Linked DNA regions of Homo sapiens: region 2 is linked to region 1. Evidence: fine-mapped expression QTL. Tissue or cell type: lung. Region 1 holds a variant in brackets; the other region holds the start of a gene. All regions are shown on one strand. Distances are between the middles of the regions.

Region 1 (8,000 bases):
ATGTGCAAAAGTTCAGGGTAATGGTGCCTATCATGGCCCGGGCACTGAGGTAGGCATGGGGGCAAATGCAGAAGGATGAGATAGAATTATTGCCTCAAGGTGGCTCAATAAAGAATGGTCAAAGGAAAGAGTGCTAGCATTTTTTACCAACTAGTATGTGCAACACATATCTCTTCTCATTTCAAGAATTATTTTGGTTGGAACCATGCAGAAGAGAAAACTGAAATTGGATTAAAGAACCGGGCTTTCAACCCAGGCCTTTTGGACTCCAAAGCTGAAGCTAGCTTTTACTACTCTGACATAGTTGTACCATGTCAAGTGTCTTTTAATAACTCAGCATTTTGTGTTTCTCTGTCTCCCTGTTGCAGGTATTACCAGCAGAGATATCACGACATGTTTTGGAGGCTCCTTGGGCATTCAATATGAAGACAAAATAAATGTTGGTGGAGGTTTATCAGGAGACCATTGTAAAAAATTTGGAGGTGGCAAAACTGGCAAGTGTTTAGTAATAGATCTCCCAAAAAGAGAAGCCAGGCTTTCCTTTGGACACACACTGGGACATGGAAGCTATTTTTTTTCCCAGTTGATTGCATTTTAGTCAATGATCAGACTGCATAGACGCTAAATACCCCAAAACAATGACCTGCAGTGGCTTTATTTTGAATCTACCATGGGCTTAAAATCACCTTAGAAATACCTACCTTTATACGGGGCACCCTCCTAGATTTCAAGGGTTAGACAAAGGTCCAAGTAAGAACTAGAATGAAAGGAATCTGGAAAATGGGCTGTTTGAATGAAGACCCATCATATTACAGTTCAGAGGGAGGAAATAAGGCTGTTGAGAGAGAATATGGTACCGAGTCCAAGCTCAAAGAATAATTATTAGAGAGGGATTGTACAGGAATATTTTATGGCATTTCCTGAACAAGTCAGTTGGGGTGTTCATGTGTTCATTTACTCATCCATTCATCAAACAGGTATTGAGTTTTTTTCCCCAAGTGGGAGACACAGAGGATACAGGGATGATGAAGAAGTTTATAATGCAGTGGGTGGAATAGATATTAATCAGGTTCAAGCTATTCCTATTGCATTAGGTTACCTGTACCTCAGGGCCTTAAGTCAAATTGTTTCTTCTCTCTTTCTATCCTCTCTTCATTTACCTGGCAAATATTCACTAACCTTTGTAGACAACTCACCTTTCTTTCTGACTGCCTCCCACACCCCCTACTGTATAGCTAACTAGTTTCTTTCACTGTGCCCACATTGAGTCCTATAGTAACATCTGTTGTACCTATAGCACCTATAATATTTGATTGAACCTATTCGGCATATAGCAGGCACTGAGTAAATATTTGATGTAAGAATGAATGAGTGAATGAATGAATAAATGAATGACCACCCATTTCCTGTTCCCCTTATCCTCCATGTGGTCTGGGCTGTCCTCTCAGTATTTCTCCACTCCAGAGGATGGGTCTATTTCTGAGTCTTGGTCCTTCCCTTCTGCCTTGTCCTGCTAGCTAACCAAGAAGAGAAGAAGAATGGTAAACATCTAAGGAAAACATGTAAACTTTCTTCCAAATCTCATTAGTGGGGTTTGTCAACCAGTCCTTGGGCTTTTTGGGAAATGAGTTAATGCAGTTTATCCTCTTGATGGCAGAAAGGGCCAGGAAGGCCATGGCTGTGGAAGACATTATTTCTCGGGTGCGAGGTGGCAGTTCTGGCTGGAGCGGTGGCTTGGCACAGAACAGGAGCACCATTACATACCGTTCCTGGGGGAGGTCATTAAAGTATAATCCTGTTGTTATCGATTTTGAGGTAAGTCTTTTCGCAGTTGAAGAAACTCTACGTCCATGAGGAATGAAAGTGAAGCAGACCAGATCATTTCATATTTCTTATTATGAGCCCATCAAAGAACAAGATTAAATGTAATGGCACACTGAACTAGTGGCCTTGCTTGTGCCTGACTCCAGGGAGTGCATGACTTCAGACCCAGGCCACGGGACAGCTGGGATCAGAAACTGATGATCTAGTCAGTGCCTAGTTTTACACTGCTCATCCCAGAAGTTCCTCAGCATTAGGTCACATTAGGCAAATCATGATTTTTATTTATACATAAAACACTTCAAAAATCACATGGGCTAAATTAGGGGGTGGCAAACTTTTTCTGTAAAAGGTCAGATAGTAAATATTTCAGGCTTTGTGGGACACATACAATCTATAATACACAAAGTAGTAGTATTAGTTCTTCTTCTTTCTCTTCTTCATCAAATCTCTTTAAAAATATAAAAGTCATTCCTGGCTCAAAGGCCATACAAAAATAAGCTGTGGGTTGGACTTGGACCCAGGCTGCAATTTGCTACCATCCTCCACAGTTATCTCATCTCTCCATTAGAGGAACCTCTGTCATAGATACTATTCCCTCCCATTAAAAAGATTAGGAAACAGGCTCTGAAAAATCAAGTGAAAATATTTGAGGTCATATAGCTCAGAGGTGGCAATGCTTGGATTTCAGACCTTTGGACTTCGTATCCAGTTCTCACTTCTCTCTATCCTAGCACCTCCATTAAAGCAGTGGCTCTCAGCTACTAGGGGCAGTTTTCCTCCACAGAGGAAATATGGAAATGTCTGGAGATGTTTTTGATATTTTTGTCACCACCCACAGTGGGGCAAGGAGGTGTTACTGGCATCCAGGAGGCAGAGGCCTGGGATGCTGCTAAACATCCTTCCATGCACAGAACAGACCCCACAGCAAAGAAATATCTGGCCTCAAGTGTCAATACTGCCAAAATTGAGAAACCCTGCCTTAAATGCTTAACCTCACAAAGTGTGAAAAATTCTATTTTAACCACAAAGGAAGTGATTGTTCTAGCAGTTGCCAAACTATTTCTGTCCATATGTGGTGTAGTCCATTTAAGAGACTGCATTTCAGACTTTGAAGCAAAAGATCATCATTTTCTCATCCATTTTCTCCCCACCCTTGCCTATTTTTCTACATATATTTAAAATCCCAGATATGGATATAGTCCTCCTCTTAAAACATATGCCTACAGTTAAACCTAGAAGTCTATTCTAACACCCTGGTTTCTGTGAAGAAACAGGTCAGATGGATCAACCTTGATTTTATTTCTTCTTCAATAAGTAAGAGACCATTTTCATGCAACTGTAATTCACATAAGGTTTGAAAATTGATATCATCAAGCTATTAGTGATTTGAGCAAAAACTGTAAAATTGATATCAGGAGTAATACATAAACTTTCATAGGCAAGAGGTGAACTTGGTGTTTGCCTTGAGAAAAACTTCCCTGGGAAGACTCAGGGTCATCATTTGGAGAAGACCACTACAGTCTTTTGGGAAAGAGCCCAGGCTTTGGCAGGATTGGGTGAGAGGGAGGAGAAAGACATAATTTAGGTCATAGCTCAGCTGCTTTTTCAATGTGTGACCTTTGACAAGTTACTT[C/T]CCTCACTGAGCCTCAGTTTCCTGCTCTATCACATAGAGATATTTCACAAGACTCAGGAGATCAGAAGTTACTTGGTAAATGTCAGTTGAAGAAACAGGTTCAGCACAATATCTCGAAATTGGCAAATGATAGAGTCCAACTCGAGTCATGTTTGACTGACACTAACATCCTCAGTCTCTTCACAACTCATGTTGCCCCCTGAGAAGTTCGGACTCAATGCATTAAGCCACGGGCAGGCTTTATAGCAGGGAAGTAACACAGCTAGCACTGTGTTTTAAAAAGAGAATGCTCACAGGGAAATAAAGGGTGATTTGAAGAAGAGAGAGATTACAGACAAGGGGACCAGGTAGGGGTTATTTGGAGCCTGATGTTCAGAGTGGAAACAGCATGTTATTCACTTGCATATACCCCAGAGTTCAGCAGTGCTTATTTATAGCAAGTGCTTAGAGTTTGTGAATGTAGGAGTCCTGCTATGTTACGTTTGTGTTATGTTATTTTGTTATGTTGTGTTGTGTGATATATTATTATGCATTATCTTGTGTTGCTATATTGTATCATTTGACCTCTGAGTCTTTTTTCTCATCTGCAAAACGGGAACAAGATCACTGCCAATACCTTTTCAAGCTCTAACGTCCCAAGATCCCTCTTCTCCACCTCTCTCTCCTCTTTTAACTCCACCAGTCCACCCTATGGAGGGCTTCCCCTCTTCCTGTGGTTCCTGGGAGGGAGAGATCTGAGGTGGGGAACTGGATGCAGAGCCCCACTGGAAAGTCAAAGAGAAATTGCTCAATGGTCCTGGCTTTCCCTGGAACTAACAGTCATCTTTGAGAAGGCCAACAGGGCAGCCTATTCTACGCTGACTTCCTAACAATGGGACTGAATTCTCTGAACTTCCAGTAAGTGGTTTTCTCCCCTTGGCTGGGGACCCTACCAGTCCTGATATTACCTGCCTGCTGACCTCAACCGCAACCCCTGACCACAGGCCAAAGTCTGTTTGCCACAGGTCTTTCTGTACACATTTCCAGGAACTCAGACAAAGCTATTGCCAGTGCCCTCAGTTGACTTCTGTTTCCAGGGAAGTGCGACTACCGTAATGTGGCTCAGTCCTACTGCTGACTTGCTCTGGCACAGTCCTACTGCTGACTTGCTCTGTGACCTTGGCAAATCACTTCCCCTTTGGGGGCCTCAGGTTCCTCTCCTTAAAATGAGAGATCTGGAGAAGTGCCTTCCTTTTATGAAGTATTAACATGTATAACATTATAAGCATGCTGAAGATAACCACATATGCATGCAATTTGAAAAACATGGGTTTTTTTTTTTTTTTTACTATTATCACATACAACTAACAAAAATGGTGCTTTATTTTTTGTCATTCTTCCCTTGTACAGTAGTATCTCACATTCAGTACTTCTTTAGATCCTCATAAGAAATCTGGGAATTAAGTATTATTCCCATTTTCTAGATAATGAGGATCAGACTTAGACAGGGGCAGTTAGGCCACATAGCTAGAAAGTGAGTCACATTTACTTAGTTTTACCATGTGACAGGTCTTTCCCCTATATCATCTCCCTTAATCCTCACAATAATCCTGGAGGGTGTGATGACTGTTCTCCCTTTACAGATGAGGAAGGAGGCTCCGTGTGTCATGTGCCAAAGATCACACAGTCGGAAGCAGGGTAGCTGGGGTTTGAAGCCAGGTTTTCCGGCTCCAGATTCAATCCTCCTTGTGCTTCATCTACTACTTCTCAGTCGAGGCAATTGTTTCCCCCAAGGAATATTTGGCAATGTCAGGAGACAGTCTTGGTTTTCACAACTGGAAGGGGGCTGCTGGCATGTAGTGGGTAGAGGCCAGAGACTCTGCTAAACAGCCTACAATACAAGGACAGCCCACTCCTGCCAGTAAAGAATTATCCAACTTGATACGCAATAGTGCCGAAGTTGAAAAACCCTGAACTACGGTCATGTCTGGAATGGGTTGCATCAGTTGTAAATAACTCCCACCCAGCCACATGTAGCTGCCACAGTTACACCATTAGGGAAATTGCTCAGCAATGACAACAACACTACCTGTCAAGGATTTTATTAATTCCTGCATTGAAGGCTGACATTTAAAACACACACTTTTCCTGCTTCCTAAATGTGGTGGAGAGGGCAGATGAGTTGGCACAAATAACTTCTAAGCCCACTTGGGATTGGGAGTGCACAGGTTTCAGAGTTAAGTAGGTGATTCTTGTGAGGAATGCACACATTGCTCCAGGATCACTGTGAGGATTAAGGGAGATGATATAGGGGAAAGGCCTGTCATATGGTAAAAGCTAAGTAAATGTGCCTCACGTCCTAGCTGTGTGGGCTGGGACTTTTAACTGCCCCTCTCTAAACCCGATCTTCATTATTATTTCTTAATAATTGTGTGCTTCTGAGCCAGTCACTTAAACACTGAGCCTCCCTTTCTTCTGCTAGGAGCTGAGGAGTTTAATACCTATGTCACAGAATGGCTGTGAGGATCCAAGGTGGTGGGATAAATTGGGTGTCTGTGTCTGTGCCTGGCATGTATCAGGCCTTCCAGAAGCTTGGTGGCCGGTTCTTGGGCTCTGGGAAGGTAGATAGAGCCCAGGGAGGGGCCCTGTGTTCTTTCTGTGCCCACAGATGCAGCCTATCCACGAGGTGCTGCGGCACACAAGCCTGGGGCCTCTGGAGGCCAAGCGCCAGAACCTGCGCCGCGCCTTGGACCAGTATCTGATGGAATTCAATGCCTGCCGATGTGGGCCTTGCTTCAACAATGGGGTGCCCATCCTCGAGGGCACCAGCTGCAGGTGCCAGTGCCGCCTGGGTAGCTTGGGTGCTGCCTGTGAGCAAACACAGACAGAAGGTAAGGTCCGTGCATCCCCACCCAGTTCCAGCCTGTCCCAGCTCAAAGGGGCCAGTGCAAAAAGGACTTTTGGGGTTCCCGGCCCCTCCTTTTGGAGCTCTCCTAGCCAATACCTAGGAGCCACCCTTGAGAGTTCTGTTACTCACCCATCACATTTAGTGGTTCTTGTGCTTTGTCCTTGCCATCAAGACCTTTTCTCAGATGAGAACTGTTTTTCGCCAAGATGTATATGGACAACAGGATTCATTTCTGGAGGAATAAACTAGTTTCCTAGGGCTACCATAACAAATCATCACAAATTAGGTGGCTTATAACAACAGAAGTGTATTGTTTCAGACCTCTGGAAGCTAGAAGTCCAAAGTCAGGTGTGTTGGCTAGGTTGGTTCCTGCCAGAGACTGGGGGAGTATGTGGTTCAAGTCCCTCTCCTATCTTTTGGTAGTTGTCAGCAATCCTTGGCATTTCTCGGCTTATAGATGCATCGCTCCAGTCTCTGCCTCTGTCTTCGTGTGGCATTCTTCCCTCTATAACTCTGTTTCTCTTCTTATAAGAACCACCAGTCACTGGGTTTGAGACCACCCTAATCCAGCATGACCTCATTTTAATGTGATTTCATCTGCAAAGATCCTATTTCCAAATAAGGTCATGTTCACAGGTAACAAGGGTTTGCCTTGAACATATCTTTTGAGGAAACACAATTAAACTCACTAAAAGAGATAGGTAGTTGTCATTATAGTGTAAGAAGTTATGACTAAAAACAAGGTTTGGGCAAGGAAGGTTTAAATGCAGATAACTGCAACATGAACCAACTGGTACCAGGGAAGAAAGTTATCAAACAAGCATTAAAAGTCCATTGCTTAAAAATGAAGAAGTCTGGGGACTTGGATGTGAATCCCAGATACTTTACTAAGTCACTGTGAGACACTAATTGTTCACATCTTTCTGGGGCTTAGCTTTCTCATCTATGTTCCCTTTTAGCCCCAAGAGTATGCATGTTCCAATTCCTAAGCTCCCACTTTTTCAGGCACATAAAACTGTTTGTATGGTACATAAAATGATGGCAAAATGTATGGACTACCTAATCAATGTACACATTAACCTAAATTGGCTATTGCAATGAAGAAAACACAAAGGGAAAAACAAAGAAGTCTGGATGGGAAATCCAAGGTATTACAATTGACTCCAGAAAACAAAGGGTTGAAGCACAGGGTGGAGGGGGCTGAAGCCATGTGGCTCAATGGCCATGTGAAAGAAACAGGCCAACCATTAGTCCCAGTTCACTCAGTGGGAGCCTGATACAGACGGCCCCACAGTGAAAGACGGGTTAACAAAAGTCAAGAGCTCAGGATAAGATTCTTCTCTGGCGTACCAAGATTTTTGTTCTTGGTGCCACACCTCACCGGATACTGACAAAGCAAAGCAGGCAATCCAGAGAAGTGGGAAGGCTCAAACCTATGTATTAAGAAGATCTGGAAAGATTGGGAATTTTAGGCATGAAGAAGAAAGACTCAGAAAGGACAAGTCCCACATAAACTGCCATGTGGGAGGACATGGAACTTGTATTCTATGGCCACTGAGATTAGGTTGTAGGACTAAAGGAGAGAAGCTATAGCAAAGGGATTAGGGCTTAATGAGGGAGGACTTTCTTCTGCATGTACTGCAGCAAGAATGAGGG
Region 2 (8,000 bases), 56 kb after region 1:
CTGGATCTTTAATGAAAGGTCAAAGACTACTGGAAACCACAGGTGGATACTTTAAAACGGTTACTTGAGGCAGGATGCTACACACCAGTGGGGGGCTTCAGAGTGTGTTCTTATCTACTAATTTGCCCAGGTTTGACAAAACAATATTGTCTGTGATTTGGCTTCTCCTAAGTATGTATTTGACAGCTCTGCAGGGTACCCTCTTCCTATTTCAACTACAAAACTGTTACATTATGTTTTTAGCAACCAAGACAACTCCAGGGCCATAGGTGAGACTGAGCAGGTAAGTAATGTACACACTAGCTATTAAGAGTCACAATTATTTTCGTCTCTGAGATTTGAAAGCCTGTTAATGGGCAAGATGATCACTTACGGAAAGAACTTGGTAAAAAGTAGTTATATCCACCACATCTCTCATTTTTGCACCCAATTTTCATTATGGAAGGTGGCAATATAATGAAGTAACCAGCTGAATAAATAGTATGTTTGTAAATTACATCGGATGAGATGTGTGTGGTTTATTAGTACTATAAAATGCAAATCTGAAAGAAAGGCTAGGATTAAACAGCATCTTTAGTTCCTGGGACTAACGAGGAGCCACATAAATTCTAGGTTCCCTCAGGGCCTCTGTGTGTGGGAACAACATGAGCCTTTCACCCCTATGGATTTCTATAGAAACAAACCTGATGGACATTTTGACCAACTGACTAAACTTCTGTCATTAAAAATCCTCTGTATGCTTTTAACATTGAAAAATTAAGCATGCCTAGAGAAGTACAAGAAATAATATAATAAACACCCATGTACTCACATCCAGATTGGCAGTTGTTCACACTTTGGTACACTTGCTTCAAGTCTTTTTGTAAATTTTTAATTTTGACATCTGCATTTTACAGCAGCCTCGATTTTGCTCCCCCCACCTTACCCCCAGAGGGGCTATTGCCATGAATTTGGTGTGTTTCCTTCCAGTCTCTTTTAGATAATTTGATGTCTATACACTATCTATAGTATTGCTTGTGTGTGCTTTATTCATACTTACACATATGATTCTGCAACTCACTTTTGTTAATCAACATTGCATTTCTGAAGTTATCCATGTTGATTCATAAAGAGATCTAGTTCATTTCTTTTGTCTGGATGTTCTATCATATGACACACATTGCATTTAATTTATTCCTTCTCTTTTTGAGGGACATTTATATTTTCCCAATGTTTTGCGATTGCAAATAGAGCTACAGTAAACGCCCTTGCTCAGCTCCTTGAACATGTGCCCCCTCTACTTAAGGACTGGCAAGGAGGTGTCTTTCCTGGGGATGCAGAAAATGCTGTAGCCAGCATTAGGACACATTTAACTGGGCCCAGGTCTCCCACTCTTTTCCTAACAGGCGTCTCTGATCAAAATAAAGATGGATCCATCCAGTACAGCAGGATTGGGTCAGCAGTAAATTGCAAGCCATCAGCTTATATAGATGGGGTGCGTCAATATATTTTGGCTTTCGGTAGAAATGCCCTGACACAACAACTTTCTTGTCACACACAATTTGTTAAGCAGCTGCATCCCCTTTGCAAACAGCATCCTTTTTCTTTGCTAGAAGGGGCAGCTTCTAGGTGGCAGGTTTTCAATTTCTCTTCTCTCTGTCGTTTGCTGTGGTAGACATGAAATTTAAAGCAACATCTCAAGGCAACAAATGTGTGGCCCAGAGATGGAGAAACAGCACAGAGGCCAACAAGTCAGATACACAATGTGGAGGTTGGGGGGTGGTGGGGGGTGGGGAGGGGACAACGCATTAGTGAGAAGCAGAAGGATGCAGAGAGAGTGCAGGGACTCTGAGACCTGAATGAAACTGGATTTGAATCCATAGTTAGCTGTTTGTTAAGTGGATAGCCTTGGGACACTTATGTTTTCTGTTTCCCTCTCTGTGAAACTGTAAACAGTAGCACTTACCTGGAATAGCTGTGAGGATTATAGCTAATGTTTCCAAGTTGCTGGCACAGAGTGGCAATACATAATAGGTCTTACGACACAGTGATTGTGATTTCATCATCTGACTTGATTACAAGAGTAAGTAAGAACAAAAAACTCTTTTGGCCAATACGAAGGTGGTCTCAGCATTTTCTGTTCCAGAACCAAAGACTATTCTTCTACTCGCAGATGGAATTCAAATACCTGTCGTGTTCAAGACAGCCCCATGGGGATTATAGGTGGATGTCAGAACTATACCCAGATTCAGGTAAGGGTTTGAAAACCTCACCACACATGCGTGAATCTTTTCTTGTCACTGAGGATCAGTTTGTTCTCTTACATAGCGAGAAGGAGAGATTACACCCACCTCATGATGTTGTAGTGACAATTAAATACAATTTCTCAGACTGCACTCTAATCAACAATTTGCCCCTCCACTCCCTACCTCAGAGTGAACTTCCTAATATATATATTTGATCGTGTCACTCCTTTGCTTCAACTCTTCAATGGCTTCCCAATGCATTGTGGTGAGGATATAGTTCAAGTTCCTTAGCTGGTACTCCAGCATCCCCCAACTCTGCCCATGACATGATGCCTGTTCACTCCTACTCTATCTCATCCCTCTCAACTTCCTGCCGGGACCTGTGTTCAAGGCCCACTGAGGTGTCTGGAAGCTTCAGGAGCAAGCCAGCTCTCTCACACTCACGCACCGTTGCCTGTGCTGCTCCCTCTACCTGGCACACCTTTCAACCCCTTAGCCATTCGGCAAACACCCACGCACCTGTAGAGATTCAGCCCTCACACTCTCTGTTCTAGAAGCCTTTCCAGGCCCTATGCCCTGTAGAGCTGATCATTCCCTCCTTGTTTCCTGGCTGCCCCGTAGCATCTTTTGTAACGGTACACATAGCATATGCTCACATGTTGGCATTCTTTGTGAGAACATAGGCTCATCTCTGTATCCTCAGAGCCCAACAGAAAGCTCCACCCAGGGGCACAATGCTATAGATAGGGTTGCTATGGTTCCCTTAAGTCCTCCATTCCGGAGACATTTTCTTGGGTCCTGAATGCTTCTCTGTGTACACACAGTACACACAAGGAAGGTCTTGGCAGCTTAGTTATTCTCTGGGCTAAATGGAGTTTCTTGATCATCCTAATAGCTGTTACTTATTGAGTGGCCAATAGATAGTGAACGAATGCTCATCATCCTGTGGTTCCTAATGGCAGCTCAACAGAACTGAGACCAGAGGCTGTGTCCCATGGGTAGGAGGTACTCCTCACATAAAGTGAAAGGTTTGTTCAGATCTCATTTTTGGACTAAGTAAAAGGAATGGAATTACAGTCCCTCTTCCCACAGGAGTGTTTACATGGAGGCCGGGGACACATGCACACTTCAACATCTCATGGCAGGGGTTTCTCATGCACACGGAGCATCCCCACATTGCTACGTCACTGGCTCTTCTATCACTGGAGCCCAAGTTTGAGCTCCCACTAGGATATTTTCTTTAGCTTGTTTTGCACCTTGTTAATGGAGACTAACAATGATGAAATAAATCAGCCAGCATTTAACTGCTGGGAACCTTGTGGGGGGTGAGAGAGAGAGAGAGAGAGAGTGTGTGTGTGTGTGTGTGTGTGTGTAAGAAGGGGGTGGGAAAGAACCTGAGAATCTGAAGATTTGGGGTTGATGAGCAGGTAGAGTAGGTCAATCTCATTTATTAAAATCATTTCATGAATTTGCTCTTTTGTCCTCTGTATGTAACAAACTTTCTTTTTCATAAAGAATCACACGGAGGCTTTGTTCAGAATACAGAAAAAATATCCTATTCTTCTCAGCATGACAAAATACATTTAAACCTGTCAGTTTCTTACAGGAACTTTTGTTGAAATCAGCTACTTGGTTCCACAATAATTTGAAAAGAGTTGTTGATAGTATGTTATCAGATGCATGCAAATTGCCTTAAGAGACGTTCCTCATTCAATAGGCATGCAACAAAGAGATGGTCAGCATCATGTGGCTGCACCTTCCCTGTCATATTATTGATCAGGGAATTATTGGTAACTGTCACTTACCTGGAGCCAGGCAAACTGAGACAGCCCAGGGCAGCACAGAGAAGAAATAGCTCCACCGGCGCCCTCCAAGCCCATGTCCTGGAATTCTTCATTTTCCCAATGTGACAGGAGATGCCACAGAGGCTGCTAGACCCATAACAAGCCTGTGCTGTGAGTGCCACTGTCAGCTTCTGTCCCCAAGAGCAAATAGCTCTGCAAAGTAAACAGAAAGCCACTAGTGACTGGAAACAGACTTTGCACAGACCAAAAACTTACCTGTCACTCTGGAAACCAACCAGAATAATGAAAAATCTGTAGCAGCATGGTGTTTATTCCTCTGTAACTTTAGGGTAAGCTGCCAAGTGGACAGGCTATTAGTGAGGTGGCAAGGACTGTGGGATCTAGGTCTAGACAGCCTGGGTTCAAGTACATTCTCTGCCACTGACTAGGTTGGTGCAAAAGTAATTGCAGTTTTTGTCATTGCTTTTAATGGCAAAAACCACAATTACTTTTGCACCAACCTAACAGCTTTGGACTATGGGCAAGTTGCTTTACTTCTGTGCCTTACTCTCCTTACTTGCTAAGTGGTGAGAATTAAACACGTTAATATAAGGAAATGTTTAGAACAGGCCTATGTTCAGCGCTCAGATATGTCAGCTATTATTACTTAGTAGAATTCAGGGTTTGGAGTCAGACAGGCCAAGGTTTGAATTCCATGTTTGCCTCTTTCCAGTTACATGATGTTGAGCAAGTCAGTAAGAGGCTGTAGGGCTCTAGAACCCATCTACCTGACTTCAAATTGCTTCTGTATGATTCACCAGCTGTGTGGCCAGAGAAAATTACTAACCCTCTCTGGGCCTAAGTTCCTTCATCAATAAAACAGGGATAATAATAATACCAACCTCACCGGGTTGTTGTGAAGATTAAATAAATTAGATTATTATTAATTATTATTGTAATTATAATTAATTATAATTATTATTATTAAATAAATTAGATTTATTTAATCTTCACAACATGTTCAAAACATGTTGAACATTGCCTGGCACATTCTATGTGCACTCTCTATAAGTGAGCTGGTATTTTTATTGACTGTCTCTGATTCTGTTTCTTCATATGTAAAATTAGGAGGACTATGACAACTTACCACTCACAGTTGGGAGAGTCAGACCAAATACTAAATGTGTAATTGTTGAACAAATAGGCATTATAGAAATAACTACATGACACTTTGGGAGGCCGCGGCGGGCGGACCACGAGGTCAGGAAATCGAGACCATCCTGGCTAACATGGTGAAACCCCGTCTCTACCAAAAATACAAAAAAAATTAGCCAGGCATGGTGTTGGGCGCCTGTAGTCCCAGCTACTCGGGAGGCTGAGGCAGGAGAATGGCGTGAACCTGGGAGGCAGAGCTTGCAGTGAGCCGAGATCGCGCCACTGCACTCCAGCCTGGGTGACAGAGCGAGACTCCGTCTCAAAATAAAACAAAACAAAACAAAACAAAAAAAACCCAGGAAATAACTACATGAAAATAATTATCTAAATATATATGTGCTGTTGTTGTTATTGTTTGCATCCCAAAAGATACAAATGACTGAGGTTCTCAAACCTACCTTCCTGAAAACCATCCCTGACTCCCCAGAATCAACATATTAAAGTCCAAACTGCACCAACCTGGCATTTACAAAACCAACCTGCAACGCATAAAGGGCTGAGTCCACGTGTTGGATGGCGTCCTGTTGCTTTTGCTATTGCAGATGTGGGTGAGGAACCTCACATGGGAGAGGCAGCTTGCAAGGTATGAGGGTGGGCTAGTAGAAAGAACACTGGATTTGCTTTCCTTAAACACAGTTACAGAGTTTCTCTAAGACTCTGTTTTCTCATCTGTGAAATAGGGATAATAATTCATTACTACCTACTTGATAAGTTTGTTTTGGGTTTGAACGTACAAAACGGGAAGCCTCCCCCTCCTGCCACCCCTGCCGAGTAGCTGGGTTGGGGTTGGAGAATCAAATAAGGAAGTATAGTGAGGGGATGGATGGGAAAGCCACAGAAGATGGTAGTCCTCTCACATTAATTGTGTCCAAAACACAGAACACAAGTTCTGCTGCCAGACCACCCAGGATGCATTCCAGTTGTCATAAGCCTAGGTGCAAGACTCCATGTCACCGTTGTCCCAAAGGATGAATTGACCTGAACTTTGACGCAATTGATTGTGGTGGTTAATCATTTGTAAACAAGCAGAAACTTGTGTTTCAAGAAAGATCCATGTCCTGTCTCCTATCTGCCTGCCTTTAAGAGAAGCCAAACCCTTAGAAGACAGGGCTCCCCTTCGACCTCCTCAACCTGATGTACTCACGGAGGAGCCTGCAGGTTTAGAGAGGACAGTTACACGAGTGAATCCTGTGCTCTCTCACCTCCAGGATTTTTGCATGCCGTTCCTTCTGTCCAGAGTATGTGCCACTTAGCTAAATACGACTCATTATTCGAGTTTTATATTAATGTCACTTGCTCAAGAAAGCCTTCCCAATAGATTCCCCTGGGGTTCTTAACGCTCCAGGCGCCCCCAGGTCTCCCGGAGTTCCAACCTCATCGCGCCCCCTGGTGGTTTCCCAGTGCAGCTCACCTGAGATCCCGCCTGGAGGACGGCAGCCTCAGGCTTTAGTGATAGTAATACACATATTTTTCAGGGACAGTTCTTAACAATTTAACAGTTTTCCCATACATCATCTTGTTTGATTTTGACAATAAGCCAAGAAACATAATATCATCTTCCAAGCCTCTAAGATGGGGCTTCACAGCTGTTTCCACAGCTGGTTAGTAGGACATCTTTGGCTTGATACACTTTTTTTTCTGACTCCTAAATGCTCCTTTTTCTAGCTCTGAAGCTTCCCCTTGCCCTTAGGATGTGCCAGCACTGCTTTAAGTCTTCACAGTTATCACACCACACTGCTCTTCTGGTCTAGCTGCTCTTACTCAGGGCTATAGATCTCATCTCTGACCATGCGAGAGCTTTGAAACTGATCATATGTCTCTAGGCCTTTAAACGATATGAAGGAATTTGTAACTCTAGGTCTGCGGATCCACTAACAGTTTGTTGTTTTTCCAACTTTTATTGACTGATTTTCCAGGCTCCACCCAGTTCCACAGCCAATGCCACTTTTCATGTTTCTGCTATGGCAGCACTCCACTCCTGGTACCTATTTTTGTATTAGTTAGCTTTTGCTGCATAACAAATAATCCCAAAATTGTAGACTAAAACAATCATCATTTATCAGCTCACAATTCCTTGGGTCATCAAATAGGCCTAGGCTAAAATGGGTGCTGGCCTTGCCTTGGTTCAGCCAACTGGTAGGTCAGCAGGAGCCTGGTTGGTCCAGGATGGCCTTACTCACCTGCCTGATGATTCATTCTGTCTGTCAGTTAGCACTGGCTGTTGGCTGAAGTGATGAAGTAAATGGGCCACATGACTCCAAATAGACTAACTCAGGCTTGATCTCAGGGTGATCTAATGGTTTCAAAAAGCAGCAAGAAAAGACAAGCCCCAGTGCACAAGTGCTTTCCAAACTTCTGCTTGCCTGATGTTTCTTAATGTCTCCTTGGCTGAAGCAATGGCCAAGCCCACATTCAAGAGCTAGAGACAGAGCTTATACCTGTTGATGGGAGGAAGAGCAGAGTCACATTGCAAAGGGGTATGCCTACAATTTTGGAAGGAATTCGTGGACATTCGGCAATTTCTTACAGACATGTGACACTTTCGGGCTGAAGCACTTAAGAGCCAGTGTGCCCTGTCCATTTCTGTCTTCTGTCCTGTGGATTTGGAAGCATGTGTTGACAGAACAATGTCTTATGGTGAAGGAAGCCTAAACCCCTGAGTCATTGGATGGAGGAGAGCCCATGTTGACCCATAAAGGACTTCATGTGAGTTAGAATTCAACTTTTGTTGTGCTATGTTATTGGGATTTGGTGGTTTATTGTTGCTGCAATAATA

Evidence for each region. PIP is the estimated chance that this variant, and not a neighbour inherited with it, causes the effect.
Region 2: C8B starts here. The variant in region 1 is fine-mapped to the expression of C8B in lung (TOPMed, PIP above 0.99).

What each region holds. Positions count from the first base shown.
Region 1 is chr1:56,906,299-56,914,298 of GRCh38, forward strand. It overlaps C8A (complement C8 alpha chain), which reads left to right. Exons shown (of 11, transcript NM_000562.3): 8 at 369-494; 9 at 1,658-1,815; 10 at 6,105-6,327. Among named protein-coding and RNA genes, the nearest start is that of C8A, 56 kb to the left of the region's middle. The variant C/T (reference allele first, on the strand shown) is at 3,458.
Region 2 is chr1:56,961,827-56,969,826 of GRCh38, forward strand. C8B (complement C8 beta chain) reads right to left here and starts at 4,189. Exons shown (of 12, transcript NM_000066.4): 1 at 4,031-4,189. The coding sequence starts at 4,122. LOC112267900 (a long non-coding RNA gene) reads left to right here and starts at 2,146. Exons shown (of 8, transcript XR_007066117.1): 1 at 2,146-2,231; 2 at 7,754-7,930.